6 separate regions of the Homo sapiens genome follow, and all the other regions are linked to region 5. The links come from fine-mapping of genetic effects on gene expression. A gene starts in region 5. Each other region holds a variant in brackets. All regions are shown on one strand. Distances are between the middles of the regions.

Region 1 (5,074 bases), 47 kb before region 5:
TATTATTAGGATGACTCTTCTACTGTCATTAAAATGGACTATGGTCATTTATGGTTCCCTAATTTCCAAATGCTTTCATAATATTAATATGCTGCCCTGGGGAAAAAAAAAGAAAATTAAAACAATTCCTCGCTGCATTTCAGAAAAGCACCAGTAGCCTTGACCTTCTTGTTTTGAGAAGGGACCCTTCTTCACTTCAGGAAGTCCTACTTACATCATTGACCATTTTTCAAATTCTGTCATGTTGTTTGTAGTGTCACTTCAGGCTGAATCACTCTTTTCAGAAATGGCACAGTTTGTGATATCTCTGTAGCTTTTCATATTTAATACAACTCAACTGTCACTTTAAGTGAAAAAATTCTGATTGAGCATGAGAAATTCTCTGTTAATGAAGGCTTATGTCCTTCTGGCCATGAACAAAGGGTGCTTGGTACTTGCTAGTTCCATTTAAATACCGTATTATTTTATAAAGTTAATTGTGGACTTTCAAGCATCCTTTAAACACTACTGAATTCATTTACTCATTTTGCCAGATAATGGGGAACAGAAGGGGGCAGAGAAGGCCCTCTGCGTCAGTCCCACTTCACAACTCAACAATGCAGGAACTGAGCTAGGAAGCACAGCACCCCTATCCGTTATTCCAGTTTTAAGCAAGGCCTGATTCAGAGTCTCATTTTTCATGGAGTTGTGTTTAGTTTTGAGACTTGGTTTATGTTCTTTTTGGTAAGAACTAAGTACTTCTATTTCCTAAAGTTACACTCATCAGATTGCTTAATATGGGCATTTTAAAGTTAAGAGAAGTAGGTTTAGGATGTGGCACTGGATATAAATGCAGAGGTGCTCCCACGTGCCCCTGCATGGTCATCGTAGTGCAGTGGAATACAGATGCATGCTCAAAGGAGGGAAGGGGGAGAGACCCACGGTGGTCTCTGCATGGAGCTGGCATGACTCCACGGCACAAAACAAGAGGGAGAAGAGCGGGCCAGGCATGTGTGGGGACGCACAGGGTTTGATGTCACAGTAAGGTCACTTAGATTTAAAATGTCTTTAGAAGCAACAACCTGGTAAAGCAACTCTAAACTTCAGAGAGAACCATTTTACTTTATCTTTTTTTTTTTTTTAAGAAGCATCATAGCTTTATTCTCATAACTCAAACTTTAAGTTGAAGTCATATTCTGAGGAAGCTCTTAGAAATTACAAATTACCTGCATTTTAAAAGTCAAGAAAAAACTTCTTTTTGATTCTGCAGCAGGTCAAACTGGCTCTTAAATTATTATTTCAACAAATTAACATTACCTTGAATAATGAATTCTAGTGGTACTTGGGGTGGTGAATTACAGAGCTCACACCCGAAAGCCATGTGAATGGCTAAATTGGCAATGGCAAATGAAACTGGCCACTAGTCAGTTTACTACAATTTCAGCTGCATCGTTACGGAATGAAGGGAAAGCTCAACGAAGAACCCACAAAATGAAATGATGCAGACCAACCTTTTATTGCACCCACAATATTTTGGTCTAGTCCTTTCCGGTTGTCATTGAGTCCTCTTTTCCTCTTCCCATTGGGTAAGGAGTTAGCCAAAGTCTTGTCATCAAAAAACGCACACACCAGTTTTCTAAACAGAAGGCTTCCTGAGCGAGTGTAGTTTGACAATATAGAGTCCAGCTGAGATTTAGGCATAAACACGTCAAAGCCTTCAGCAAGTTGTACTTCTGGCTACCAAAAGAACACAGATATTTCATTAAAAGCAAGATTTGAAGCATCTGACTTTGGGTACATGAGCAACAAAAAAACATCACTAGCTACTGAAATGTACATATCCTACAAATGAAAACACTCTTGGCTTTCTTTGTCTGCCAGGATCTGCTATTTATAAAACCAAGGACTAGTTATAACTTATGAAACAAGATGCTCTAATTCCAATATTGAGCCTTGTCAAAAGCAATGGAAAGAAAATAGCCAAGAGAAGCCTGGACAACCACAAAATCCTATCATTCTAGAGCTAACAGGGAGTTGAGACTTCTGGATGAAATATCCTCATTTTGTAAACAAAGGAACTAAGGCCCAAAGAGATCATAAAAAAAAAGATTGAGAAATAATTCAAATGTGCTCAGTGCAGTACAGTTACAGATCACTTTCTCATACACTAAATAACTTAATTTCTTTCCCCTAAGGACACAGATACGGGGCTAACCCAGAAGGCCCCTGGCTCCTTCTACTATGCCAGTGGCTTTTAGCTGCAGAGATATTTTTTTTCCCCAATGAAAACTTTTGTAAACTAATATGTAAAATAAGTAAAAACGATGAGCAGGTTTCCCAGGCAGTTTAAATCCACTCCCCATCCCTAATTTTGGAAGGAAAATGTGAAACTATGTCCCAGATCACTCTTGGAAAACCAATGTGCTAGCACACTGCTTCCCTGGCAGGGACATCCTGACTGGGATACGGAATCAGAGGACGTCCAAGGTGCCTTTCAACTTGGACGCTATCGCACACGCTCGGCGCTCAGCACGCCTTCTCCAACAGCA[C/T]GCCAGGAGGTTTACAGCTCACCTTTGAATCTTTCAACCCAGTTCATACCCTTTCCTTTACAAAGCCTTCCAAATGAACTGATCTCCTAACTCCTTCCTGCCCATGGAGGTGGCTACAACTCTCTGTTCCTGCTGTTCATTTAGCAGACATATGATTCTATTTCTTACACTGTATTAGAATTATTTATTAGATTGCAGCCCTCCCTGATCCTGAAGCTCAGACTTTGTATCTCTAGGATCTGGCATATAGCAGGCACTCCATAACTTCTTGTGGAATAGACGAAAGTTCATTAGTCATAACCTGCACTACTAAGTCATTTAGTTTATTGTTGGTTATGACATGGTAGCTGTAAAATAATAACTTTAATATGAAGAAATGCAATTGGTAAACTGTTGTTAGGAAAAAAGTCTGAAGAAAACCTCACTGAATTAAGACATGCTATCAAAGCTGATTCTTAGATCTCCTATTCACCACTCTGCAAAACTGGCCCTGCTTTGCAGTTTCTAATCACATCAGAAATGTGAGGATCCGGGATGAATTTCTCTCCTGGATAGTAAGAATGATTATTTTTGATTTTGTCCTATCACTTTTCAACATGCCACCCCACCTATGGTCAAAGTAAACAGGGCTCAGAGCATAGCTTCAATTCTTTGGATGACACAGGAAGGAGTTTGGGCCTGGTCCCTCCAAAATAGAACTTTTAACTGGAATATCCAGAAAGTCATCTCACACTTCTGCTTCACTTTGCCATTCCATGTTTGGTCTCTGAATGTTTGGTGAATATCACCATACACAGCTATACTGTCAGGTTTTCCCCTTAACTTCTGCATCTTGCTGCTTGCTGGTTCCAGGTCTCCAGAGGAGGTTGTCTGAGCTGGAGGCTGCATCCCTAGATCCCAGAACAGAGGTGGTACATACCAGGCACTCAATATGTCTTTGTTGAATGATTCAATGTAGACACTATTAGGATTGAGAGAATTTTACCATCATAATCTAAGATGAAGTTTTATTCATAACCAGAGTTTTATTTTGCACATCCTATGCTGCATTTAGAACTTTTGTTCTAAATGAACTGATCTTGGATTTTTGCTAAGTGCTCCTGTATCATTTGAAAGCCATTAAAACAAATCCAAGTTTATCTTACAGAAGCAGCTAATCACAGCTATTTGAGGATCTAGTGTGGTTCAGACACTCTTAATGGCAAGAGAGGAAGGGGAAGGACACTAGTTACTTATATAATCTCAGTTTGATTCTGATACCATTAAACAGGTACTTAAAACGCTGACCTCTGAGACTTCCCCTTTGATTCATCCTGTGAACATGGACCCCAGTTTGAAAAACACTGACCTGAATGAGCTACCAGGCGGAACTGGCCACTCCCTTCTTCATGCGCTCATACTGTTTCTAAGAACTCTGTTTACAGCACTTTTCACACAGCATTTGCTTAGCTGGGAGTTTGCATTTGTCATTGGGATGAGGACTCTTGTATTTGGAGTGTCAAACACCCATTGACTGCCCAATAGATATTTGTTAGAATAAACAAAACAATATGTAAGAATTCATTTAAAATGACTGGTGTTGATTCACAGATCTTTTATCCCTGTATAAAGAAAGTGGGTTTGAAAGTTTGCCACGCTGTGCTCAGCACACCTGTGTCTTCTAACAGTTCATGTGGTACCTCCAGGAGTTGGGTGACCTGGAGAACAGTGACCCAGCTGTTTCAATACCTACTCACTGAGCCCCCTCCATGTGTAGGAATCTGAAGGCTGGTTCTGCAGGCAAGACATATGCACAAATACCTATCCTATAAAGTCGAACGTGATAAAACATGAGAGAGAACAGAGCAAGTGCTGTCTGAGACAGCATCAGGCAGGACTTGGCTGCTGGGGGTACGGGAGGAAGGGGGCTCTTGGGGCTCAGGAGGGGATAGGACAGTGTTTTAACAGGATCTTGAAGGTAGGATTCAGGAGACAGGTACAGCCGCTGTTTCTGGTATCTGCCACAACTCCTAACAACTAAGTATCTGGAAGTTTCTGCAGAGCTAAGAGACTTCCAATGCAGATGCTGTCACTGCTTTCCATTCCACTTTCTACTGCCAAATACTGTTATTTTGAACTGTTCTTTCCAGATCAAGGAACATGAACTCACCCCTTTGCAAGCACCTTACAAAGGAGGAAGTAGTCTGATTAGTGGAGGCGGTGGTGGCAGCGGCAGCCGGGGCACAGGTGACTGGGCTCTGTCCTTCCTGTTCTTCTCGGCCTGTCTCCTATTCAGATTTCTAAGCCAGGAGTGAACAAGCGCCAATGCTATCTACGTGTGCCAGGTGCCGCAAGGCAACAACGCCTTAAAAGAACAAAAGAGGGCAGCTTTGTTTTCTGAAACATGAAGAAAAGATGACGTTCACTAATCTCACATTTTCACTAAGAAATCTTTTTATTTCCTCCATTTGATAAATGTAATCACAGTGGATTACTATCACATAATGATCCACATCTTTGTACGTATATTTAAAAACAGGATAAAGCTCTTTCTTTAATTGTATCAT
Region 2 (5,074 bases), 35 kb after region 5:
GCAAATAAGATGCTATTTGCATAAAGATGTTCACTGCAGAATAACTTATAATAGCAAAAGCTTGCAATGACCTAAATATCCAGCAACACAGGAGTGATTTAAATAAATTCTGGTTATAGTCCACTTAATGAAATATTACATAACTAAAGAAGCCACAATGAAGACTGTCAATCAAAATGTGAAAGTGGATGTGATATGATTAAATAAAAGAAAAAACAGGATGCAAAATAATAGGTGCACAATTATTACAAAGTCTATACACATGCAAATAAAATATGCGCCCTAATTTTATTAAGTGGTAACAGTAATTGTGTGATAGAATTACGTATGATTTTATTTTCTCCATTTGCTAAATTCCTATAATATGGTTGTATTAGTTTTAAAGGTTCTGTGATTCTAACTTCCTATTTAGAGTAATTTTACCTCTAATTTCAGTGATCATTTTGATAAATTTATTGGTGCCCTGATATATCCTAGGTCCTGGAATGAACCTTGAGGGAGGGTAAACAGCCATTTTGAGAAAGTCATGTTGTTTGTTTTTATTTTTTCATCAAGGGCCAAGCCAAACCTGCCTTTGGCAGTTGAGGCCCTTGATGAAAAAATAAAAACAAATAGCAAAACATTGTTTTCCAGGCAGCCCAAGAAGACCTACTTACTGGAAACTTATGCATTGGATTTATGTCGATTTCTAGCATAGCTGGGCCACAGCTGCCTCCCCGGCCACCAGGTGCCCATACTTTGTACTCATTTTCCCTTTCTCTGGGGGCTACAATAGGAACTAATGTTAAAATCAGCAAGCCCTAAGCATTGTTGAAATCAACGAGCCCTTACCACAACTGGCATGTTTTTTCCCCTTAATACTGCTTGTTTTTCATCTCTACCTTGAGGCAGTATTAACTTAGTTGATAAAATCATGGACAGACCTGGTTTGAAGTTCTGGGTGTTCTGCTCATAGCTGTGTGATCGTGGGTAAGTTACTCGACCAAGCCGTGTCTCCATCAGCTCCGGGTGTGATATTGCTACCTTATAGAATTGCGGAATGATGGTAAAGAGGCCCAGGAAGAGTTATCAGTAGAGCTATTTTGCCATCATTCAACCTCACCAAGTTGCTGCTGAGGGAGAAGGGTGCTGGCCTCTCAGTGGATCCTGTATCTCCATTTGGGGGAGGTCAGGACAGGACTGTGCACAAAGACCCTTTATGTTACAACTTGACATGTTTTCTGAAATGCCGCCTGCATTCATGACTCTCCTGGGACAGTTTAGATGTCACTATCATCCAGCATCTAGATACTCTTATGCAGCTACAGAATTTATTGAGGTAAATGTGCAACGATTTTCAGATGAGGCCGGAAACATAGCATTCTTTGTATGGCAAAGATGAATGTGTCTTAGTCCGTTTATGTTGCTATAAAGGAACACCTGACTCTGGATAATTTATAAAGACAAGTTTTTTTGGCTCACAGTTCTCCAGGCTGTATAAGAAGCATGGCGCCAGCATCTGCTTCTGGTGAGGCCTCAGGAAGCTTCCACTTACTGCAGGAGGGGAAGGGGAGCCAGCGCCAGCATGTGGTGATCACACGGTGAGAGAGAAAGCAGGAGAGAGAAGGAGGTGCCAGACACTTTTTAACAACCAGCTGTCGTGTGAACTAATAGAGCGAGAGCTCTGTCATTACTGAGAGGATGCACCAAGCCGTTCATGAGGGATCCGCCCCCGTGACTCAACCACCTCCCATTAGGCCCCACCTCCAATGTTGGGAATCAAATTTCAACACGAAGTTTGGGCAACAAACATCTAAACCGTAGCAAACAGGTAAGTGGGAAGTTCAGTAATAATTACCGAATTTATAGATAACAGGTCTCTGAGCCCATCTCCCCTGAATACTCCCTTTTGGGAGCCTGTGGCCAGGCTGATCTTGAACTCCTGACCTTGTGATCCACCTGTCTCAGCCTCCCAAAGTGTTGGGACTACAGGTGTGAGCCACTGCGCCTGGCCTGGTGCCTGCATTTTTTATTTTTATTTTTATTTTTTTTGAGACGGAATCTGACTCTGTCACCCAGGCTGGAGTGCAGTAGCATGGTCTCAGCTCACTGCAACCTCCGCCCCCCTGGGTTCAAGTGGTTCTCCTGCCTCAGCCCCCTGAGTAGCTGGGATTACAGGCACCTGCCACTGCGCCTGGTTAATTTTTGTATTTTTAGTAGAGACAGGGTTTCACTGTGTTAGCCAGGATGGTCTCTATTTCCTGACCTTGTGATCCGCCCAACTCGGCCTCCCAAAGTGCTGGGATGACAGGCATGAGCCACTGCGCCTGGCTGGTGCCTGCATTTTTTAACCTATGTTTCCTCTCTCTCTGTCACTGACTCTAACATGTCCCCTGTTGGCTGGATCCATGAACTTGCAGGCTATTCTTCTTGGATTACCTCTTCCACCTGGATTTTTTTTTTTTTTTTTGAGACAAGGACTCACTTTGCCACTTAGACTAGAGCATGGTGATGCAATCACGGTTCACTGCAGCCTTGACCCCCTGGGCTCAAGTGATCCTCCCTCTCAGCCTTCCAAGTAGCTGGGATTGCAGACATGCATCACTACACCTGGCTAACTTTTAAGTATTTTGTAAAGAAGCAGTCTCGCTCTGTTGCCCAGGCTGGTCTTGAACTCCTGATCGCATGCAGTCCTCTTGCTTCAGTCTCCCAAAGTATTGAGATCACAGGCATGAGTCACTGCACACAGCCTGTTTGGCATTTTGACAATGGCCCAAATTCTCTATTGCCTGCCTGTGGCTAACCCTCCTTGTCTGCTAACCCTCCTTCTTCCAGAGGAGGAAGACACGTGTGGGTCTTCCTCCTCACCTGGTCCAGTTCTCACCTGACCACTTTGCCAAAGCTGACAAGAAACTGCTCCTCAGCACCCAGCTTCCTCCCACAGGCAATAGAGATCTTTCAACAGGGCTGATACCCACTATGGGAATTCAGAAGAAAGCTGGGCAAGTGATAGGACAAGGGAATGAAGCCAAGAGGTGGTAGAAAGTGGGAAAGTGGAAACATCAGGGAAGGATCATGGAGGGAGAGGAAGAACCGTAAAGTC[G/A]TTCAGGTAACTGTTGGTGGATGATATGGTCTGTGTAAGAGTTGAAGAAGGAAGAAAGAAGCACAAAAAGTGGCTCAACAGTCAAAGACAGGTTTATGTTAAAGAATAAACCTGAGAGGGGCTTCTGGCCGAATTAGGTCAGGAGCACTCTCTCTTACAGACTAAGAGTTTTTAAGAGGTCAGGTCAAGAGAGCGCATCACAGGCTGGGAATGTTTCTGTGTCTCTTTGTCTTGCTTATCTGGGAGAGAGAGTTTTGTGTCTGTTCCCATACATCTTCCTGCAGGTACAGGCATACCCACTGAGTCTGCTTTTAGCTTTCCTAGCTTAGTGCACCTAAAGGAAAAGGAATGTGCTTATTAGGGCCCACTGTTTTACTGGGGCCCATTGTATGAGTGTGAAGTTTGGTGGTTACCCAAGAGACTTTCCCCCACTCCTTCTGGGCCCGAGCTGTCTTATCTGTGTTTTGCTATCTGCCCTTTCTGGCTTTTTCTTGTTAGAAGAGAAGTGATTTCCTTGAAACGCATGAGGGTAGAAAGGGAGCTAGAACTTAAAATGGCAGTGTTTTTCCAAGAAGACAGTGCTCCTGCTCTGTCAGTTTGGATCTGCATCCCCACCAAATCTCATGTTGAATTGTAATCCCCAGGGTTGGAGGTGGGGCCTGGTAGGAGGTGACTGTACCATAGGGGCAGATTTCCCATGAATGCCTTAGCACCATCCCCCTCGATACTGTCCTCATGATAGTCAGCGAGTTCTTGTGAGATCTAGTTGTTTAAAAGTGTGTGGTACCCACCCCCATCCCCTGCTCCTGCTCCGGCCATTTAAGACGCATCTGCTCCCCCTTTGCCTTCCACCCTGATTGGAAGCTTCCCAAGGCCTCCCCAGAAGCCGAGCAGATGCCAGCATCATGCTTCCTGTACAGCCTGCAGAACCATGAGCCAATTAAACCTGTTTTACTCATAAATTACCCAGTCTCAGGTATTTCTTTATAGTGATGCAAGAACAGACAAATACAGGGGATAAAACACTAGAAAGAATGGGGATGAATGGAAAATGGAGATCTATGACGAAGAAAAATAAAGTGTGTGGTGGTTACAGTTGAAAATAAAAAAAGAAAATGGGTGTAATGTTTGGAGGGGAGGCGTGCAGTGGAGGTGAAGGTGGAAAGGTGGGCTACGGGGCCATTTCAAGGCAGGATTATAAGGTGGGCACCTGAGACAATCAGCCAATGACTGCCATTAGAGGGGCTGTAACAGCTCTTGCCTTCAAGAAAGATGGGATTCAAAAGATGGCTTAAATAAATACAAAAATATATAAAATAAAGTAGACTATTAAACATAATAAGAGAAGTTCAAATAAATCATGGTGGGATCACACAAAAAGGACGTCATGGCATTCAACATTCTGTCCCTTATCTCTGAAGAGTTTTGAGACTGAAATTTGGGGGGTTCTTTTCTTTTTCTTTCTTTCTTTTTTTTTTTTTTCTGAGATGGAGTCTTGCTCTGTCGCGCAATGGCGCAATCTTGGTTCACTGCAACCTCTGCCTCCCAGGTTCAAGCAATTCTCCTGCCTCAGCCTTCCGAGTGGCTGGGATTACAGGTGCCTGCCACCATGCCTGGCTAATTTTTGTATTTTTAGTAGAGACGGGGTTTCACCACATTGGCCAGGCTGGTCTTGAACTCCAGACCTTGTGATCCACCCGCCTTGGCCTTCCAAAGTGCTGGCACTATAGGCATGAGCCACTGCCCCCAGCCTTGGGGGTTCTTTAGTAGAAAGTTACCATGTAAATATATTAAATTACTAAACATCTTCAGCAATCAAAAGAAAATCATGTTATGTTTGATAGCAGAAACTTACCCTGATTTAGGGTCTATTTATAATATTAAATTTATACATTTAGAAACACTTTATCTCATTTTTTTTTTTTGCCTCAAAATCTCTGTTGGTTAAGTAAAGTATGATCTTTATTTTGCAAATGACTGGCCTAATATTAT
Region 3 (5,074 bases), 35 kb before region 5:
GAGTAAATGGCATGGCGCTGCCACCTAATTAGTGGTGTGGCTTGCATCTATAAAATAGAATTAGCATGACTGCTCCTTTTTTATTATTAGTTTGTGTTTCCAGAAAGGTGCGATCTTATCTGTATGGCCCTGTTCATTTATGCCCATCTACAAAGGATTTAATTATATTCTTTTAGGTCTCTACACTAAGGAAATTGAAAATTGTCACTGCAAAATTAAAAATGCAAAAGAAATTAGTGAGCAGATTATTTACGCCATCACCCTCCTCCTTTCGGAGACAAAAACTGGAAACCTGTCTAAATAAATAAGGCATCACATTTTCAGAAAAGAAAACTCCAGACAAGAAAATTATTACCAGTCTTCTTTTCTTCTTTCCCACATATAGTCTGCAAGTTTCTCTAGTTGTCAAAAGGGAAATCTATAAATACTATAAAATTCCCAAAAGTTACATAGCATTAGAGTCAGCAGCCAGAAAATGGCAACTTACATCTGAGGAAGGTGATTCCAGAACAATGCCGAATCCTAGAACGCGGCTCTCCTCCGGGGAGGTGTGCTCGGCTGCCTGGAGAGCAGATAGCTCAGAGGCCACCACCGACTTTTTCTCCATCTCTGACCCACTGGGCTTCTGTTTCACAGTAAGAGGTTCCACAGTCTTTGGGGGCACTTTTTTCTTTTTATTTCTCTTTCGTGAGACAGCAGTTCGCTGGGAGCATATAAGGGAAATTGGAGGTTGTTGTCTGTTTTGAGTTCCAACTGCGAATAATAAACAAAAATATGGTACAGGCACGTGTGTCTGACTTAGGAAAACTTATCTCCGGTCTATCCATGTGATCTACAAACTGAAACCGAAACGAGGAAAACTCCAGGATGAAGCACACTAAATAAATCTCCAACTGGACCTAAAGGTTACCAAACGCAGGCTCTGAAGCACTTTCAAGTCCTAAAGGCAGAAAAATACTCAGGAGAAAGCGTTACTGCAGGTGAATCGTGACAGCATACTGCTGTTGGGTTCAATGCAGGGAAAGGATCATGAGCTGTGAGAAAACACCTGAGCATGGCTTTATAAATCATAGGATGTTTTTAAATAAATGAGAACTTCGGGATTTAAATTTAGATAGAGACGGCTGTGCTTCCTTGTAATCCTGTTTCAGGATTACATTTGGGGTTAGACTGATCCGTTCCTAATAATCTACAGGTGCCAAAACTGATAAAGATGAGACAGTGATGATCATTTGCGCAAGACTGATCAAAAGAAGCCGTCTGGGATGATTCTACATTAGGGACCAGTAAGCATGTGGGAAAAGCCTATTAGTTACTTAATTAGGACCAGTGAATCCTTCCTCACCAAACAAATATTCTCCACACATCAACCACCTCCAGAGCACCCTGCTACATGGCCTCAGACCAGGCTACTTCTCTAGACCTCGGTTTCACATAACTGAAGGAGCAATATCATTCTGTACAAGTCAAGCAAATCAGTGAAATCTAGAAACAGTTCCAAACATGAAAAGCACAGTACAGGAACCAAGTATTCAACCTGATTCTATACTTAAAGAAATCCAGGATGGTAAATTACAGTTCTCACAGGTGCACTCTGAGAAGTTATGTTTGCTAGCCATTTAAAAATACTCTCTTGGAAAGTGTAATTGGAAAACATGGCATCATTGTTTAAATCCTCAAGTATTAATATAGCTTCCTAAATATGACTATAGGATGTCCCTGCTTTTCAACAGAAATGAACCTATAAGACAAGTGAAAACTAAAGGTCTTTAAAGGCATATAAACATGAATCACCTCCTCTTACCTCTTATCAGTCTGAAAATAAAGAATATTTACACTTTGATCCTGATATTTTTGTCTCCAAATTCAAAAGCAATTCATAAATATTAGAAGCAAACTAATTGCACTACATAAGAGCACAGAAGTTTTTAAACCAGTAATTAGTCTAGCTCAATGGTTCTCAACCTTGGTTGTACATTAGAATCACTTGAGTTTAAAAAAACTGAGATGCCGGGCCAGGCATGGTGGCTCACCCCTGTAATCCCAGCACTTTGGGAGGCCGAGGTGGGCGGATCACGAGGTCAAGAGATCGAGACCATCCTGGCCAACATGGTGAAACCCCGTCTCTACTAAAAATACAAAAATTAGCTGGGCATGGTGGTGGGCACCTGTAGTCCCAGCTACTTGAGAGGCTGAGGCAGGAGAATCACTTGAACCCAGGAGGCGGAGGTTGCAGTGAGCCGAGATTACGCCACTGCACTCCAGCCTGGCGACAGAGTGAGACTATGTCTCAAAACAAAAACAAAAACAAACAAACAAAAAAACTGAAATGCCTCAGCCCCACCCCAGACGAAGTGAACTGACACCTCCAGGCATGCTGCCTGGGAAACAGCATTGTCTGAAAGCTCTTCCAGTGATTCTGCTGTGCAGCCAGAGTTGGGAACTTCTCTTTGGTCTCTCTGCATTCCCCCTCAAGGCTGGGTCTGCACCCTCAGAATCAAAGGGACCTCGAATAATGATCACGATGGTCTAGGCCCCAGGCCTTGCTAAGCCTCATGATTCTCAATTAGAAATGAAAATGTTTTGGTTTAAGGAACACGGGGACTATCTGAGTTTTTCTTCTCCTTTTGCAAATCTAGACACAGCCCAAGTCTCTGGCATCCAGATCTTACCTCTAGGTCTTATTCCCTGTCTTCTTAAAAGAAAGGTGAAACTTTCTAAATGTAATTTAAATCTAAGTCTTCAGGCATTAAACCTTAAGTAAATCTACCCACATGACACAAATTTTTAAGTTTAAGAAAATTAAAGGAGAGTAATTTATTCAGTTTATCCTTTGTGCCATCCTACAGCTTTGGAATCGTTTACCTCCCTAATCTGCAAAGGTTCAGAAAAGAAAACATAGCGACAAAGTGGCATTTACTTAATAGATTCTAAAAAGGCTTCCGTCAAGGATTTAAATGGTTGCAATTTGTAGTTTGCCATTTCAGTAGTAAGGAGCTTAAGTGACAAAACAAATCATTACAATTTCATATGCATATTTTCTTAAGTGCTAACAAATTCCTCCTCGGAGAAAAGAATCC[G/A]AACATCATAAAGTAACCTTTCTTTCTGAGCTCCTTATTTAGGAGATGTTAACCTCCTCCAGGTTAATAAGAACACAGATTATCGTAGTGGAACAAGGTGAGTCCAATGCTTACTGACCTGAGCAAAATACTTCCTTGGGGTAAAACCAAATTCAGTGCTTAAAAAGATGCTGTTTAGCCCGGCGCGGTGGCTCACGCCTGTAATCCCAGCACTTTGGGAGGCTGAGGCGGGCAGATCACCTGAGGTCGGGAGTTTGAGACCAGCCTGACCAACATGGAGAAACCCCATCTCTACTAAAAATACAAAAATTAGCCAGGCGTGGTGGCACATGCCTGTAATCCCAGCTACTAGGGAGGCTGAGGCAGGAGAATCGCTTGAACCTGGGAGGTAGAGGTTTCGGTGAGCCGAGATCATGCCATTGCACTCCAGCCTGGGCAACAAGAGTGAAACTCCATCTCAAATAAAAAGATGCTGTTTTTCAGAAAGTAGCTCACATTACTTTAATGTGATCTTGGGTGACTGATATATCTAAGTATTAATTAAGCTTTTTATATCAAAACCACATCACTGAATATTAAAATTATACTAGAATTCACTAAATGGCATCCTGAACAGCTTCTGAGTGACGACCTTCCGGACTACCATCCTGATGAAAGGGCAGGAAAGCCAGTCACGACATGGCTTAGATCAAGTGGTGATGTCCCTTGACAAGAGGGAAAACTTAATACAATGATTTATTTCTTGTACCTGTGACAAAAACAATTCTGTTTTCCCTCAATTGTGAAGATCAGAAAATACAGCTGCTATAATGAAGACGTAGACTTCCAGACTTCTATAGAACGCTTCATGGACTTTAAGACCACACTAATGAAACAGCTTAGGCTTGTACCATGCCTTATAAAGTTCATTGACAGCTACTACATCATTCTATTTTGACAACAGCCCTGTGAGTTAGATATGAATTCTCCATTTACAGACGTGAAATAGGAAGCTCAGATGCGCCACACAGCTCCAAAAGCAGAAATTGGCATCCAATCCCAAATTACAAATCCACTGCTCTTCCGTCCCTCAACTTGCCTGATGGCAGTGAAAACAAAAAGGAGTCACATAAACAAAGACGACAGAACACGGCGGATTTCTGAGCTTCCGCATCCTGAATAGGAGAGAGAAAAGCCACAAAGCATAGCCTGGGGCTCCACATTTCTTATCTGCTTAGTGCTTGAACACTGAAGCCCATGCTTCCTAAAGGACCCCTCCATACACAGTTGTTCCCAAATTTAATTAACTGACATTTGTGAAGTACTAGGAGATCATGGAATGAAGTCTATCGAGTACATACACATAATTATATGAGCTGTATCAGTAGCAAGACAAAATATGTTTGATTTGCTAAAGGAAAAATGGATTGTAGAGAAAGCTGAAAAAACAGATACTTGAAAAGGCACAGCAAGACAGCAAGGTGAGAAGAAGGCTTTAATAAAAGCACAATGAACATTCCAACGGAAGATGTCAGATATGCATTAAAAATCAAAGGACTCATTCCGAGGCCTGATCCTTGTACCTGCTTGAATTTGCATTAATTTCCTCATGGTCTTGAGTTCTTGTAGAATGGCCTGCAACGTTGACTGGCAGTTACAAGTACAGCAGTTTGATCCAGCTGATGAATTCACCACTGGAAGTTCTCCTGAGCATGAAAGAAAAGAATGACATACTCCAAACAAACCAAAAAAAAAAAAAAAAATCATAAAGAGGTGGAGAGAAAAAAGAAAGTATCTTGGCAGGATTTTGAAGCATGTGCAATTATGATGAAGCTGTGCCTAAGGAAAACGTACCCACTAATTATCACAACCTAAATCTGGGGGTCTGACTTTATCTAATTATCCAGGCTTCCATACTGTAACGTGCGTGCTGTGGCGCGGTGCGGGAGCCCGCATGCACACACACACACAATGAGTGGGCACAGCAGGCCTCCCTATTGTCAGAGCTGTTCATC
Region 4 (5,074 bases), 41 kb after region 5:
TGTACCCCAGAAATTAAAGTATAATTTAAAAAAAAGTGCACCATTAAAAAAATTCACCACTAAGAAGGAAAAATAAACATTCTCAATTATAACTGCGTGATGTCATCAACTGAAAAAATATGTCCCCTTTTCAGAGAAGTTAAAACTGAAAAAAAAAGTCACGTTAAACTGGGTGAAATGTGGTCTTTAACGGTGTCTTGATAGATATTTCTAACACGTGGGGGACATTCATAGCCAGCTTTTCCCATGGCCATTACTACTGCCACTTGCAATGTTCTCAATGTTCTGTCCCTCCTTTTGGAACGTGCTGTCAATTGTAGCAGCTGTAGTTATAAGTAGTTATAAACAGTGCTTTTTTTTTTTGAGATGGAGTCTCTGTCACCCAGGCTGGAGTGCAGTGGGACGATCTCAGCTCACTGCAACCTCTGCCTCCTGGGTTCAAGCAATTCTCCTGTCTCAGCCTCCTGAGTAGCTGGGAATACAGGCGCACACCACCATGCCCAGCTAATTTTTGCATTTTTAGTAGAGACGGGGTTTCACCATACTAGTCAGGCTGGTCTCGAACTCCTGACCTCAGGTGATCCACCCACCTCGGCCTCCCAAAGTGCTGGGATTACAGGCTTGAGCCACTGCGCCCGGCCAGTGGTGCTCTTTTTGATGCAAACCTGTGAAGATTGTATATTTTGGATGTGATGGCTAACACAGAAGGATGCAGTGGCAGAGGATGCTAAAGAGTGGATACAATAGGAAGAGTATGGAATATATCAGAGGATAAGATGTTTAGGGAGGGGGTGCATGTGTCTTTTTAACCACTATGATATAGAATATTTCCATTTCCCTCCTCCTCCAAAAAATGCTCCTTCGTGACCCTCTGCAGTCAATTCCCAGCCCAAGCCCCAGCTCCTGGCAGTCACTAATCTTTCTATCACTATATTTTTAATGCTCCTGAAATTTCATATAAACGGAATCATGTAGTATATAGTATTCTGTGTCTGGAATACTTCACTTAACATACTGTTTTGGGACTTTCCAGGTTGTTGCATATATCAGCTGTTCATTCCTTCTTTATTTCAGAATACAGTTCCTTTGAATGAATGATACTATGGTGCATTTATCCATTCATTAGTTGACATGTATATTTGGGTTGTTTCTCCAACCCAACAAGGAAACATTCAGTCTTTCACCATTACATATGATGGTGACTGTAGGTTTTTGGTAAATGCTCTTTCCTACTTTGCTGCAAGTTTTTATCATGAATGAGTGTTGGATTTTGTCAAATGCTTTTTGTGTGTGTGTCAACTAAGATGGTCACATGATTTTTTTTTGTTAGCCAGTTGATACAGTGGATTACATTGATAAATTTTTAATTAATCAATTTTTGTTTGTTGAGCCACTCTTGCATATCTGGAACAAGTTCTACTTTATGTCCTTGAATAACCAAAGCAATTCTAAGCAAAAAGAACAAATCTGAAAGCATCACATTACCTGATTTCAAATTATACTACAAGGCTATATTAAACAAAATGGCATGGTACTGGTATGAAAGTAGATACATAGACCAATGGAACAGAGTGGAGAAATCAGAAGTAAAGCCAAATACTTACAACCAACTGGTCTTTAACAAAGCATACAAAAACATAAATTGGGGAAAGGACAACCTATTCAATAAAAGGTGCTGGGAAAACTGGATAGCCATATGTAGAAGAATAAAACCGGGTCTCTGTCTCTCACCATATAAAAAAATCAACTCGAGATGGATCAAAGACTTTAAGACCTGAAACTATAAAAATTCTAGAAGAAAACCTAGGAAAACCCCTTCTGGACATTGGCCTAGGAAAATAATTTGTGACTAAGGCCCCAAAAGCAAATGCAATAAATAAATAAATAAATAGGACTGTATTGAAGAAGCTTTTGCATGCCAAAAGAAATAATCATCAGAGTAAACAGACAACCCACAGAATGGGAGAAAATATTTGCAAACGATGCATCCAACAAAGGGCTAATATCCAGAATCTACAAGGAACTCAAACAAACCAGCCAGAAAAATAAATAATCCCATCAAAAAGTAGGCAAATGACATGAATAGACATTTCTCAAAAGAAGATATACAAATGGCCAGCAAATATATGAAGAAATGCTCAACATTACTAATCATTAGGGAAATGCAAATTAAAATCACAAAGAGATACCACCTTACCCCAGCCAGACCACCATTATTAAAAAGTCAGAAAACAGGCCAGGTGCAGTGGCTCAAGCCTGTAATCCCAGCACTTTGGGAGGCTGAGGTGGGCAGATCACCTGATGTCAGGAGTTCGAGACCAGCCTGCCCAACATGGCGAAACCCCATCTCTACTAAAAATACAAGAAATTAGCCGGATGTGGTGGCGGGCGCCTATAATCCCAGCTACTCGGGAGGTTGAGGCAAGAGAATCACTTGAACCCAGGAGGCGGAGGTTGCAGTGAGCTGAGATTGCACCACTGCACTCCGGCCTGGGCAACAAGAGCGACACTCTGACTCAAAAAAAAAAAAAAAAAAAAAAAAACCAAAGTCAGGAAACAATAGATGTTGGCACAGACATGCTAAAAAAGGAAGGTGGGAATGTAAGTTAGTACAACCTCTATGGAAAGTGGTATGGAGACTTCTTAAGGAACAAAAGTAGATCTACCATTTGATCCAGCAATCTGGCTACTGGGTATCTACCCAAAGGAAAAGAAGTCATTCTATCAAGAAGACACCTGCATATATATATTTATCACAGCACAATTCACAATTGCAAAGATATGGAATCAACCAAAGTGCCAATCAACCGATGAGTGGGTAAAGAAAATGTGGTATATATACACCATAGAATCTACTCAGCTGTAAAAAAGTGAAATAATGTCTTTTCAGCAACCTGGATGAAGCTGAAGGCCATTGTTCCAAGAGAAGTAACTCAGGAATGGAAAATCAAACACAGTATATTCTCACTTGTAAGTGGGAGCTAAGCTATGGGTATGCAAAGTCATGCACACTGGTATAATAGACTTTAGAGATTCAGAAGGAAGGAGGGTGGGAGGGCGGTGGGGGATAAAAAACT[G/A]CATATTCAGTACAATGTACAGGACTTGGGTGACAGGCACACTAAAATCTTAGACTTCACCACTCTACAATTCATCTGTGTAACCAAAACCACTTGTACTCCAAAAGCTATGGAAAGAAAAAAATCCTACCTTTTCATGGTGTATAATGATTTTTATACATTGTTGGATTCAAGTTGCTAATATTCGGTTGAGGAATTTTGTGTCTAAGTTCATAAGTGATATTGGTCTATAGTTTTATTTTTCTGTAATGTGTTTGTTAGGTTTTGGTTTCTGGGAAACTGGCCTCATAAAAATTAGTTGGGAAGTACTCCCTCTTATATTTTCTGGAAGAACTGCAAAATTGGTGTTACTACTTTAAATATATGATAAGTCTCCAGTGAAACTCTCAGGACTTGGAGATTTCTATTTCCACCCCACAGGGTTTTGTTTGTTTGCTTGTTTGTTTGTTTGAGACAGAATCTCTCTCTGTTGCCCAGGCTGGAGTACAGTGGTGCACTCTCAGCTCACTGAAACCTCCGCCTCGCAGGTTCAAGTGGTTCTCCCACCTCTGTCTCCCGAGTAGCTGGGACAAGTGTGTACTACTGTGCTTAGCTTAGTTCAAAATACTTACTAATTTCCAGCCTGGGCAATGTGACGAAACCCTATCTCTACAAAAAATAAAAACAAAATGAGCCGAGTGTGGTGGCACATGACCATGGCACAAGCTATTTTGGGGACTAAGGTGTGAGGATCACTTGAGCTCAGGAGGTGGAGGCTGCAGCAAGCCATGATCATGCCACTGCACTCCAGCCTGGGTGACAGCAAGACCCTGTCTAAAAAAATGAAACTTGCTAATTTCCCTTGTGATTACTTTTTTGATCCTATGGATTATTTGTAACCGTACTGTTTAATTTCCAAATACTGGAGTTTTCTAGATATTTTTCTGCTATTTCTAGTTTAATTCATTGTTGTCAAAGAACATACACCGTATATTTTTAATTATTTGAAATTTATTGAGAATTGTTTAATGCTTCAGAATATGATCTTAGTGCATGTTCCAAATGGACTTTAAAAAGAGTATGTATTCTGATGTTTGGGGCAGAATGTTATATAAATTTCAATTGGGTCATGCTAATTGATAATGTACAAGTCTTATATATCCTTGCTGATTTTCTGTCCACTTGTTCTCTCAATTACTGATAGTGATGTGTGGAAATCTCCACCTATAAGTGTAGACTTGTTTACTTGTCCTTTGAGATCTAACATCTTTTGCTTCATGCATTTTGACGCTATGTTAATACTCATTTGAGATTGTGATGTCCTCTTGGTGCAGTGACATTTTTATCATTATGAAATGTTCTTCTTTCTCCCTATTAATGTTCCTTATTCAGAATTTTGCTTTGTCTAATTAACATAGTCACTGCTATGATCTGAATGTTTGTAGTCTCTCAAAATTCATATGTTGAAACTTAACCCCCAAAGTGATGGTATTAATAAGTGGGGGCTTTGGGAGGTGATTTTTTTTTTGAAAGAACTCTGCCCTCACGAATAGGATCAGTGCCTTCATAAAAGGCTTGACCCTTATAAAAGAGGCCAGGCTTACCCCTTTTGCCATGTGAGGACACAGCACGAAGCTGTCATCTATGAGGAACAGGCTCTCACCAGACACCAAATCTGCTGGCATCTTGATCTTGGGCTTCCCAGCGTCAGAACTATAAACTATTGTTTATAAATCACCCAGCCTAAGATATTTTTTACGGCAACTCAACCAGACTAAGACAGGTAGTTTCATTTCTTTTTATTAATGGTTGCATGGGAATATCATTTCCCATCCTTTACCTCTAACTTTATATTTAAAGTGAGATTCTTGCAGTGAGCCTGGATCGTGCCACTGTACTACAGCCTGGGCGACAGAGCAAGACTCTGTTTCAAAAAACCAATGAGACAACATACAGTTGATTTGTTTTTGAAAATCCAGTCTAATAATTTCTGCCTTTCAATTGTACTGTTTAGTCAA
Region 5 (5,074 bases):
AGTTTATTTTCTAAAACTGCACCTGCAGAGAAAGAGAAGAATCAGACCTATAATTAAAAGAAAAAGAAAAAAGGAAAAAGGAAAAACTTGCTACGTCAGTCAAAGTTTCAAATACAGTATTTTACAAGCTTCTCTATGGAGGCTACTGCATTTTTGCTTCTATTTTTGAAAAGCAGGGTCACTAAGGCATGAAAATAGAGGTTCCTCCTTAACACCTAGTCCCCTTTCTCTGGCCTTAGACCTCACAGGACAAAGTCAACAAAACTACTCTCACTTTTAAGATAAAGCAGTTAAGTTCTCTGAGGTCATCAATAAGAAAGCAGCTTACATTCCTGAATGAATCAGATAGCACCAACAGGGCAATCACCCAGACAGAGACTTTTAAAAGTCCAAGTAACTGAGTAATCAACACGGATGTGGAAAAAAAAATTTACTCAGAAAGTGGGAAGAGCCAAGTATTTTGAATGCGTGAAACTATTTCAGGCCTCTTTCATTAAACAGTATCCAAACTAAATTAGGGGAGGCAGATAAGAATGGATCTTCAAAATGCCTATAATCAAAGCATTTTCAGATGAACCAAATCCACATCTTAGCTAGCTTAGCTCAGTTTGAAAAATTCGATTACTTGCAATTGTCCACGATTTTTTCACTAATTTTCATCAGTTTACACGTGACTTCTGCAGGTTGTTGGAGTTTCTACCCTGATGCCAATGCTAGAGAAAACGACAGAGGAAAAGTGGACAGGTTGGGGTTTGGCTTTGACCTCAACTTGATTAAAAGACGACATTTAAACAGAGCGGGTCTAAACTCAATATGAGGACTTGTGACATTACAATGAAAAAAGTCACCTGCCCCTAATTAAAGATGACAATGCATTTTGAGATATATTTTCACGATGGCTCTTGAGTTATCATTTTTTTAAAAAAAAAAGTCAAATCAGGAAGATAAAGACTCTTAACAAGTAACTGAACACAGACAAGACTGTATTCCACTTTCCCCTCCCTGACAAAATACAAACCCTAGAGTGTGGTGTACACCTGTTAATTCGTCAGAAACTAGATGGATTTCTTTTCTTTCTTTTCTTTTTTCTTTTTTTTAAAGGATGCTTATCTGACTGCTATATGATCTAGTCTAAAACACCTTTCCAACCCAAATCAGCTAGCTAGAGATGTTGGATGTCAACAATTCCGCCTTGGGCTTGGACACGGCGTGAGCTTCTTTCTCCTTCTTAAAAAGAACAACAACGGTCATCCTTTTTCCTCCTTCTCTTGGCGGGGGGAAGGGGGAAGACCCCAGAAAACAAAAACAGCAAATCTCAGGTCCGAGGGTCCACGCTCGGCCTGATGGCCAGGCAGGTCCGCGGCCGCCCCAGCCCTGCCCCGGAGGCGCCCCGAGGAGGGCTCGGGCCCCCCGGTGTCATTGTTTGCTAATTTCCTGAGCTGCCCTCCGACTTGTTTACGTTAAATAACATCCCTGCTCCCCCCGCACAACTTTCCCCGCCGCCCGGCGTGTGCGGCCGCGGCCCTGCCTGCCAGCCCGGCGGAGGCACCGGGGGACCGGGAAGGACCGGGGGCTCCGGGAGGGCGCGCCCCCCAGCGTGGACCCCCGCGGGCGGCCGAGGGCGCGGCGCCCGCTGCCTGCCCCCGCCGCCCCGGCGGCCGCTTACCTCGGCTCACCAGTTTGAAGCTCTGGGATTTCCTGCTTCTTTTCCTCTCGGAGAACTCCATGGTGCGGGGAAGGCGGCGGCGGGGGCTGAGGAGGCGGCGGCAGCGGCGGCAGCGGCAGCGGCGGCAGCGGCAGCGGCGGCGCGGGCTCGTGTCACCGCGGCGGAGCCGCCGGGACCAAGGTCCGCGCCTGGAGTCGGCGAGGGGAGGCCGCGGGACGGGAGGAACCACCGCGAGCCGGCTCGGGGCTGCAGGCGCGGGGCCCGGCGGCGTGGGCTCCCGGGCGAAGTTGCCCCCGCGCGGCGCCGCCTCCCGGTGCCCTAGGCGCCCCCGCGGCCCCCGCTCATGCCGGCCCGCGGGTTCCAGACGCCGCCCGCCGCAGCCCAACTTTCCGTTGGGAGCGGGCCGGGCCGGGGCGCGGCGGCGGCGGCGGAGGCGGGGGGCGGCTCGGGGCGGCCGGCCCGCCTGGGCTCAGCCTGCGGTCGCGGCGGCGGCGGCGGCGGCCCCGAAGACGCGGCGGGCGGGCTGCGGGGAGGGCGGCGGCGGGTGCAGAGCCGGCCGGGGCGCTGACCGCCCCCGCGGGAGGAGGGGCGCCGGCGGAGGGGGCGGTGCCGCTGGGACCCCAGGGCCACCTGCTGGCGGAGCCCGGCCGCCGCCATCCCCGGGGGCCGCCGCCGGCCTGGCCGCGCGGCGCCCCGAGGAGGCGCGGAGGCCGCGGCGCAGCGCCCTGGCCCGGGCCCGGCCGGCCTGCCTGCCCCCGGGGACGACGCCGCCGCCCGGGCCTCCGCTCGCAGACCCCGCTCGCTGGCCTCCCTCCGCCGCTTGCTGGGCCGAGCTAACTCCGTGCACCTCGCCGTGGGGGCGCGGACCGCCCCGACAACCACCTCCCCGCCCTCACATCCCGGGCGCCCCGGGGCCCGACGCGCTGATTTTAAGCAAGTTTTAGGGGGAAAAAACTTACCCATTTGCGCTCTCTCTAGAAGGACAGAGAGGAGGTTTTAGAATATTGTGGAGAAGAATATAGTAGAGAGCTCCCATTCCCTAACCCAGGCTGGGCGGATTGTGGAAAGAGCCGAGTCACATTCAAGGAGAGCACTTGGAATGGGGGGCTTGGTGGCCCTGGGGACTCTCAGGAGGCCATGGTCAAGGCAGGTGCAGGGCACTATGCTTCTCCACGTCATATGTCGGAATCATGGACCCAAACACAAAGCGCTTAGTAGTTATGTGTAATATTCTTTTCGGGGGATCAGAGAGCGCACTTCAGGCACCATTTCTTTCTCACATCTTTCGAGTGGGCCAGGAAAAGAATTTCACACTACCTGGGAATGGTAGGACAGGAACATGACGGGACATGCGTGAAAGTATCTGCCAAACCCAACCAGGAAGAGGGTAAAGAGTCGGGGGATGGGGGGGCTACCTCTCCGGCACGGGACAAAGGCCAGTGGCCCCAAAAGAGTAGAGAGGAAAAAGGGGAGGTTGACAAATGTGATGAGTGTCACGTGGGTCTCACCCAAATGAGGCAGCCGCTGAGGAACCGCTCTTATTTCAGGGACACAGAGTAGGACAACTGCCGAGGAAGGGGGACATTGAGGCAGCTTGCAGAAACACACATGGAGAAACAGAACCAAAGAGCAGGGTAACCAGCAAACCAGGCAGTGGAGGCAGGGATGGGTACCCATCCCGAGATCTTGGGTGATACCAAAGGCGGCACATCCGGAAGGCTGGTTATACCTAGCGTGGAGGGGAGAGGGAGAACTGTTTCTTCCGTTCAATAAAGCAAACCCTTCAACAAGAGGTTCTTAACCTTTTTTAGTCACTGTTTCCTTTGAGATTGTGTTCAAAGCTCAAGGGCCCTTTTTCCCAGAAAATATGTATGGGACATATAAAATTTAGTATAGATTTATTGGAGTTCTTAGACGCGCTTTGCTGCTCTCAGAAAATTAGTGGTAACAGTGATTAAAGCAACTACCCTATTTGGGTTTCTTCCTTCCCTGCCACCCCTTTCTTTAAAATCAGGCATTAAAATCTGAAGATGTTTTGGATTTTTTTTTATTTTTTATTTTTTGAGACAGAGTCTCATTCTGTCGCCCAGGATGGAGTGCAGTGGTGCGATCTCAGCTTACTGCAACCTCCACCTCCCGGGTTCAAGCGATTTTCCTGCCTCAGCCTCCCAAGTAGCTAGGATTACAGGCATGGGCCACCACGCCCAGCTAATTTTTTGTATTTTAGTAGAGATGGGGTTTCGCCATGTTGGCCAGGCTGGTTTCAAACTCCTGACCTCAAGTGATCAGCCCGCCTAGGCCTCCCAAAGTGCTGGGATTACAGGCGTGAACCACCACGTCCGGCTGTTTTGGATGTTTTTAAAGAAACAAAGCATGCAATTTTGTTCCCCAGGCTGGGATCCATTCTTTCTTTATGTAATGCCTTTTAAAATGTTATTCTCAAAGCCGTAAGGCTAAGTTCTACACTGACTGAGGAACTTCCCGGATCGTTCATGCTTTGGAGCATATAATGAGATTTTATTATGCTTAAACTATGACGAACCCAGTGAAGGTGTCATCCCAAGAAGTAAATCCCTGGAGAAGGTATTAACAACTTAGCATTTTCAGTTCAAGTGGGAATGCAAATTCCATTTACTGAAGAGAATATTTTTGATATAGTTAAGAATAAAATATTTGAGTAAGAATATTTTTAAATAGTAGTCATTTCTCCTTGACCCTTTTTAACCTGGCTTTCCAAAGTTGGTCTATGAGTGAGTTGGCCTGCAGAGGACACAGGCTACGCTTGTCTTATTAGCTTTTAGAGAAAATAAATGTCTGTTTACTCTGCATTTTGTGCAAATCACTATGCTCTTATCTAACAAAAATGTATATATCACATTTAGTATTAAAATTAATAATAATGTTTAATTAAAATGAGGTTGCTTGGGGCCAGGTGTAGTGGCTCACACCTGTAATCCCAACATTTTGGGATACAGAAGGATTGCTTAAGGCCAGAAATTCAAGACCAACCTGGATAACATCCTGAGACCCGGTCTCTACCAAAAAATTAAAATATAAAATAAAACATAAAGTGAGATTGCTTTAAGTAGCAGGTATCCATATAGTAGCTGATCCTTATCCTTGGGGAGTATGTCCAAGACCTTCAGTGGATGTCTGAACCTGAGGATAGTACCGAACCCCGTATATACTATGTTACCATCAAACCCCATATATACCGTGTTTTTTATTGTTTTATGTTTTCTAATAACCAAGCCAACAAGTGACTAACGAGCAGATAGTGCAGACAATGTGAATACGCTAGGCTAAAGAATGATTCCTATTCTGGGCCGGAAGGAGCAGGTTGGCTAAAGATTTCATCATGCCACTCAAAATGGGGCACAATTTTAAATTGATGCATTGTTTATTTCT
Region 6 (5,074 bases), 64 kb before region 5:
ACAACTGAAACATAAAAACTCAAAGGACAGGTTAATCAATAAATTAATATCACTGAGTGGAACAGGGAGATAGATCTGGAGAATAACCCAGAGTGTAACATAGACATGAGAGATGGAAATAGAACAGATAAGGGATACAAAGGACAGAATAAAAGGGTCCAGTAAACACTAATAGATGTTTCAGAGGGAGAGAATTCAAAGAATGAAGGAGAGGAAAGAGAGAGTAGATGAAAAGTCTTCACAACTGGTGAGTCATGGATCCTTGGTTCTAAGAAGCACAACAATCAAGTATATTAAGAAAAATAAATACATAACTGTAATAAAGAAACCAAAGAACACCAAAGGCCAAAAGATCCTACAATCAACTAGAGCAAAAAGACAGATGATCTACAGAAGAACAACAGGTTGATCAGACTCCACAACAACTGAATCTAGAGAACACTGGAATATCTTCAAATCATGATGAAAAACCATCCTTGATCTACAACAAATCACCCAACTAAACTCCACATCATTCCTTTGTTCCGAGGAAAATTTCGGAACAAAGACTCGAAGACCCTCAATCAAAGAATTACTAAACACTGTGCTTAATCCATTTATGCTGGAGATTGCAAATGTTTTTGTGAAAAATCAGACCTTGGTGATGACCATGAACAGCAGAATATAAAATAACTCCCACAAGCTTAGCATTCCAATAATGGAACACTAGGCAGAAATGGTTCAGCCCATTTATGGGTTAGAAGAACCCATTTCTTCTTCCCATTTATGGGAAGAAGAAAACAACACAGAGGCAAAGAACTGGAGAGGAGAAAGGGGAGGAGGAGTGCAGAGGGCATGACCTATAAGATCTTAAGAATTATTACAATGCCAGAGTAATGAAAATGATGGCTCAAAGACGAAGGTAGATAAAAGACCAAATGTAAACATGTGTGAGAGGAGCTCAGACTATGGCAGAGATAGAATTATGAATCAGTCAAAAATGGATGCTGTTAAAATGACTGATCATCCACAGTGAAAAACAATTGAATTAAATCTCTACCTCACATTTAGGTAAAAGTAAATTCCAGATGGATTAAAGACCTGATTATAAAAAATAAAACTTTGTTGGAAAAAAAAATAAAAGGATATAATTATATCATCTGAGTAGGGAGGATCTTTTAAAATGGGCACAAAAAGGCAAAAAGCATGAAGAGAATCCATCTGCCTGTCAAATCTCAACTTCGGTAAGATAAAAGACATTGTAGGCAACGTCTTCACAACTGGAAAATAAGGGGTGATACTTGAAATGCATGTCATTGACAAAAAAACTCCAGTAAGTCAGTAAGAGAAGAACCATCTAGTGGAAAAACAGGAAAAGGATGGAAATTCACAGAGGAAAAATAACTAAATAATGACAAATAGGAAAGGATGCAGAACTTCATTAGTGATCAGAGATTCTACCACTGAGCCTCACTTGAGAACCATCAGACTGGTGAAAATTAAAATCTGGTAACAAGAGATCTTGGCAAGAATGCGGGAAAGTGGGATTTCTTCTACCTTGCTGGCAGATGCATCAATTAATCAGTTTTGAGAGCCACTTGATAATGCCCAGCGAAGCTGAAGACGCTGTTCCTTGTTACTCGGCCGTTCCATTGCCTGGTGTGTTCTCTAGAGAAACCCACACATGGGCACCCAGAAACACAGAGATGACAGCTGCCTTGGGTGACAGGGAAAGAGAAAAGCCAGCCTCACTGTCTCTTACGAGAAGCCTGGAGGAAGAAAAGGCTTTGTCATGCAGTGGTTAGCAGATGAAATGGCTAAGCTAGGGTTAGAATGTGCTGAGATGGACAAATCTTTAAAAAGATGAAAAAGGACATGTGAAACACAGGCAAGTTGCAAAAGTACCGTGTGATGCTGTGGCCACAGATCTGTAAGCAGGACACAAAACAATAATGAATAGGATTGACGGGAACACAAGTGGCAAAGTAAGAATGAATGGGAAAGATACACACCAACTCCATTACTCTGGGGCGGGGAAGAGAGAGAATGGAAGGGAGAGGGAACATCTTGATTCTTAGAGAGGGGATATGAAGTAAATTATTAATAATAGCTGTTTTAAATCTTAGGGGAAGGCAGAGAAAACAAATTCTTGGCAAATGTCTTTACCACATTCAAGATGAAGAGGAACACTATTATTTCAACGTTTTAACCTAAAGACTACTGTTAATGGGGACAAATGTCGTTCTTCAGTCTGTGAACAAATCAGAAAATTTCTCCTAGGGCTATGCCACAGAAATGTCAACGCTGACTAGATTTCAATTATACTCCTTACACACACACTCTTTTGGGATAAGCACCAAAAGCTATCTTTAAAAGGGAGCTGGGAGAAGACTCAGTAATTTGCCTTCGGGGAATAACAGAGAAGACAGCAGTGCATCTCATCCTTCAGGTCTCAACTGAGACGTGACCTTCCCCGATAAGGCCTACCTGAGTTCGTTAACCAGTGATTTTTTAAAATAACAATGTCCAGTGTTCATCAAGACTGCAAGCTCAAAGCAAGGGCAGAGATCACGTCTTCCATTCACTGCTGGCACATAATAGGCAGGTATGAATGTATGGTTCATGAAAGAGTAAATCTGAGAAAGTTTTTTCTCTCGTCTGTTACTTAACTTGAAGGAACTGTAAGAAGCACTTCTTCAGTAAATAGCCAGAGGTCTCATACTGAGCCCTGAAGTTCATTTCAGATTCGGTTTGACAATCAGAATTTAGCACAGTTCATCAACTAATGCACCTAAAAATGATGCCTTTAAATTAAGGAAATAAAGTATTGCAGACAAGGTATTTACTGATGAAATGAGAATATCCTACTGAGTTATAGACATGAGACTTTAGCAGGAGCCGGCATGCGGGGCAGTCAGTCGTA[C/T]AAGACACAAAAGTCAAGGATTGCAAAAGCTGGCCGTGAGGACCATCTCATCTTCGTGCTGACTGCTACTCTATGGGGCTGTTATTTTCAGCTGGCTGATGTAATGAAAAGGGCCCTAGATATCCATAAAACTGATTCCAAGCCATATTTATCTGGTTCTTTAGGTTTACTTCTGAGAATTTGGAATATAACCTCTGAACCACAGAATCTCTGACCTGGAGGCTTTTATTATTATTATTTTAACTGGAGACTTTAAAAGTTAGTCAAGCCACACTTTTTTTTTTCCTAGAGAAAGTGATGGTTCAAGAGCTTGAATGACAGTCAGGAGTGAATCTACGTCCCACAGTGCTCCCTTTGTTATCCCCACACTGGTGGGACTCTGAGGCTTGAAGAGTCTTGTTGAATCCCAGTGATTCTCACCGATTTGAGGCCACAGCTATCTCTCTCTCTCTCGTGTGTGTGTGTGTGTGTGGTGGCAGGGGTGGGGGGACAGACAACAATATTCTTTGTCTTCCTTCAGTTTTGCTACTATGACATTTCTGTCTAAAAGGAAGTGCCAAAAAGTGCTGATAGTGGTTTCTCAAATTAAACAAGGTTAATTTTAATTTCTATCAATTTAAGGAAGCACCCATTTATAATACAACTGTTGGGAAACAAGAAGAACTTTCCTTTGGTGAGCTGTGCCATGCCTTTGTTTAACACAGTTGGTATATTTCAATGGTTACGTCGTATTTACTAAGTATTAAGATCTGGGTAATAACAAGCTTTAGTGTAATGATGTTTGACCGTTGAATCCATTTTTTTTTTTTTTTAGCAAAGAAAAATGTTTCAAAATTATGGATTTAATAGGCCGGGCGCAGTGGTTCATGCCTGTAATCCCAGCACTTTAGGAGGCTGAGGTGGGCGGATCACCTGGTTAGGAGTTTGAGACCAGCCTGGCCAACATGCCGAAACCCTGTCTCTATTAGAAATTCAAAATTAGCTGGGCGTGGTGGCGCACACCTGTAATCCCAGCTACTAGGGAGGCTGAGACATGAGAATTGCTTGAGCCTGGAAGGCAGAGGTTGCAGTGAGCCAAGATCACACCACTGCAGTCCAGTCTGGGTCACAGGGTGAGAAACTGTCTCAAAAAAAAAAAAATTATGGATTTATAGAAATTCTACTTGGAAGGTGCATTATGTTTCGTATAACTCATTTATTTATTTTATAGAATCGAATGCTGAGGCTCAAGCAACACAAAATTTAAAAGATTGGGAATCACCAGCTCAGAGGCCTTAGGCAAGTGGCATAAAACACATGCGTTCCCTCCACATGTTACTGGGCTTGACTGTTCTTTAGATAAATGAATGAGGAAAAAGTCATGCGTTTTTCTCTTTCTAAAGCGAGGGTTTTTCAGTATATGAATTTTCAAAGTCATTCCATGAGGCGCTGAGTTTACCCCCTCGCCAGGAGGTCTGGAATGAACGCCTCCAGTGCCAGGGTAAATTATAACATAGGCAGGAGGCTCAGGTCAGACCGCAACCCAGAGGTGACAGAGGCTGGGAGAAGGAAGGGTGAAGGGCTGGGAAGGCGGGTGCGGGGCAGGGGTCTCACTCATCAGTGGAGATTTATGCACTGTCCCACCGTGGACACCGGGGGAAGATGCTGGGGCGTCAGGACAGGGCCCATGCCTCAGAGGTAGGATTCAATTTCCTGTTCTTTTTTACACAGTGGCAACTCCCTTCTCATTGGGATCAGCTGTAGGAAAATTTGGGGTTCACATTCTGAGGCTGACAGGAGTTCTCAGACTTTTATCTGATCCTCACTCTTTCAGGCACCAAGTTGCTAGGACAAAGGCTAAAATATACCTGGAGGGGAAGTATACGGATGTGTCAAGAAGTCTTCAGGTAGGAAAACTAGGAAACGGCACATTTAGCCTAACTATGGATTCCGTTATTAGGTTTATTTAAACCAAAATCCCACAATAAAATGATTACACTTCAACTTTTGAGGATGATTCCTCTCTAGTATGAAAGAAAGCATGACATACTACACTTTCCATGTGGCATACCGTGGAGGTTTCTCTTTGATATTTAACAATGATCAATGCTTTCACAGCCCCATTAAATACAAACTTGGCTTTTTTATTTTAGATTACCTTAATGTTTTTGATCGACAAGATTACACTACCCT

Direction of the effects. Alleles are on the strand shown, and positions count from the first base shown. SD is a standard deviation of normalised expression in the study named. Not every link is listed here.
With allele T in place of C in region 1, the expression in skeletal muscle of the gene that starts at base 2,208 in region 5 is higher (small effect, 0.17 SD a copy in GTEx).

What was found. PIP is the estimated chance that this variant, and not a neighbour inherited with it, causes the effect. A credible set is the group of variants that fine-mapping cannot tell apart.
Region 1: its variant is the best candidate, but not a certain one, in a credible set for the expression of BEND7 in skeletal muscle (GTEx, PIP 0.55).
Region 2: its variant is the best candidate, but not a certain one, in a credible set for the expression of BEND7 in whole blood (Lepik 2017, PIP 0.85).
Region 3: its variant is the best candidate, but not a certain one, in a credible set for the expression of BEND7 in whole blood (INTERVAL, PIP 0.85).
Region 4: its variant is the best candidate, but not a certain one, in a credible set for the expression of BEND7 in whole blood (INTERVAL, PIP 0.87).
Region 6: its variant is the best candidate, but not a certain one, in a credible set for the expression of BEND7 in lung (TOPMed, PIP 0.61).

What each region holds. Positions count from the first base shown.
Region 1 is chr10:13,479,409-13,484,482 of GRCh38, forward strand. It overlaps BEND7 (BEN domain containing 7), which reads right to left. Exons shown (of 9, transcript NM_001369863.1): 6 at 1,491-1,716. Among named protein-coding and RNA genes, the nearest start is that of BEND7-DT, 47 kb to the right of the region's middle. The variant C/T (reference allele first, on the strand shown) is at 2,529.
Region 2 is chr10:13,561,497-13,566,570 of GRCh38, forward strand. No RefSeq gene overlaps it. Among named protein-coding and RNA genes, the nearest start is that of PRPF18, 23 kb to the right of the region's middle. The variant G/A (reference allele first, on the strand shown) is at 3,083.
Region 3 is chr10:13,492,124-13,497,197 of GRCh38, forward strand. It overlaps BEND7 (BEN domain containing 7), which reads right to left. Exons shown (of 9, transcript NM_001369863.1): 4 at 4,643-4,765; 5 at 488-753. Among named protein-coding and RNA genes, the nearest start is that of BEND7-DT, 34 kb to the right of the region's middle. The variant G/A (reference allele first, on the strand shown) is at 3,081.
Region 4 is chr10:13,568,053-13,573,126 of GRCh38, forward strand. No RefSeq gene overlaps it. Among named protein-coding and RNA genes, the nearest start is that of PRPF18, 16 kb to the right of the region's middle. The variant G/A (reference allele first, on the strand shown) is at 3,078.
Region 5 is chr10:13,526,807-13,531,880 of GRCh38, forward strand. It overlaps BEND7 (BEN domain containing 7), which reads right to left and starts at 2,208. Exons shown (of 9, transcript NM_001369863.1): 1 at 1,667-2,208. The coding sequence starts at 1,727. BEND7-DT (BEND7 divergent transcript) reads left to right here and starts at 1,798. Exons shown (of 2, transcript XR_930674.3): 1 at 1,798-1,846; 2 at 3,214-3,458.
Region 6 is chr10:13,462,530-13,467,603 of GRCh38, forward strand. The region is part of intron 6 of BEND7 (BEN domain containing 7); the gene reads right to left. Among named protein-coding and RNA genes, the nearest start is that of BEND7-DT, 64 kb to the right of the region's middle. The variant C/T (reference allele first, on the strand shown) is at 2,903.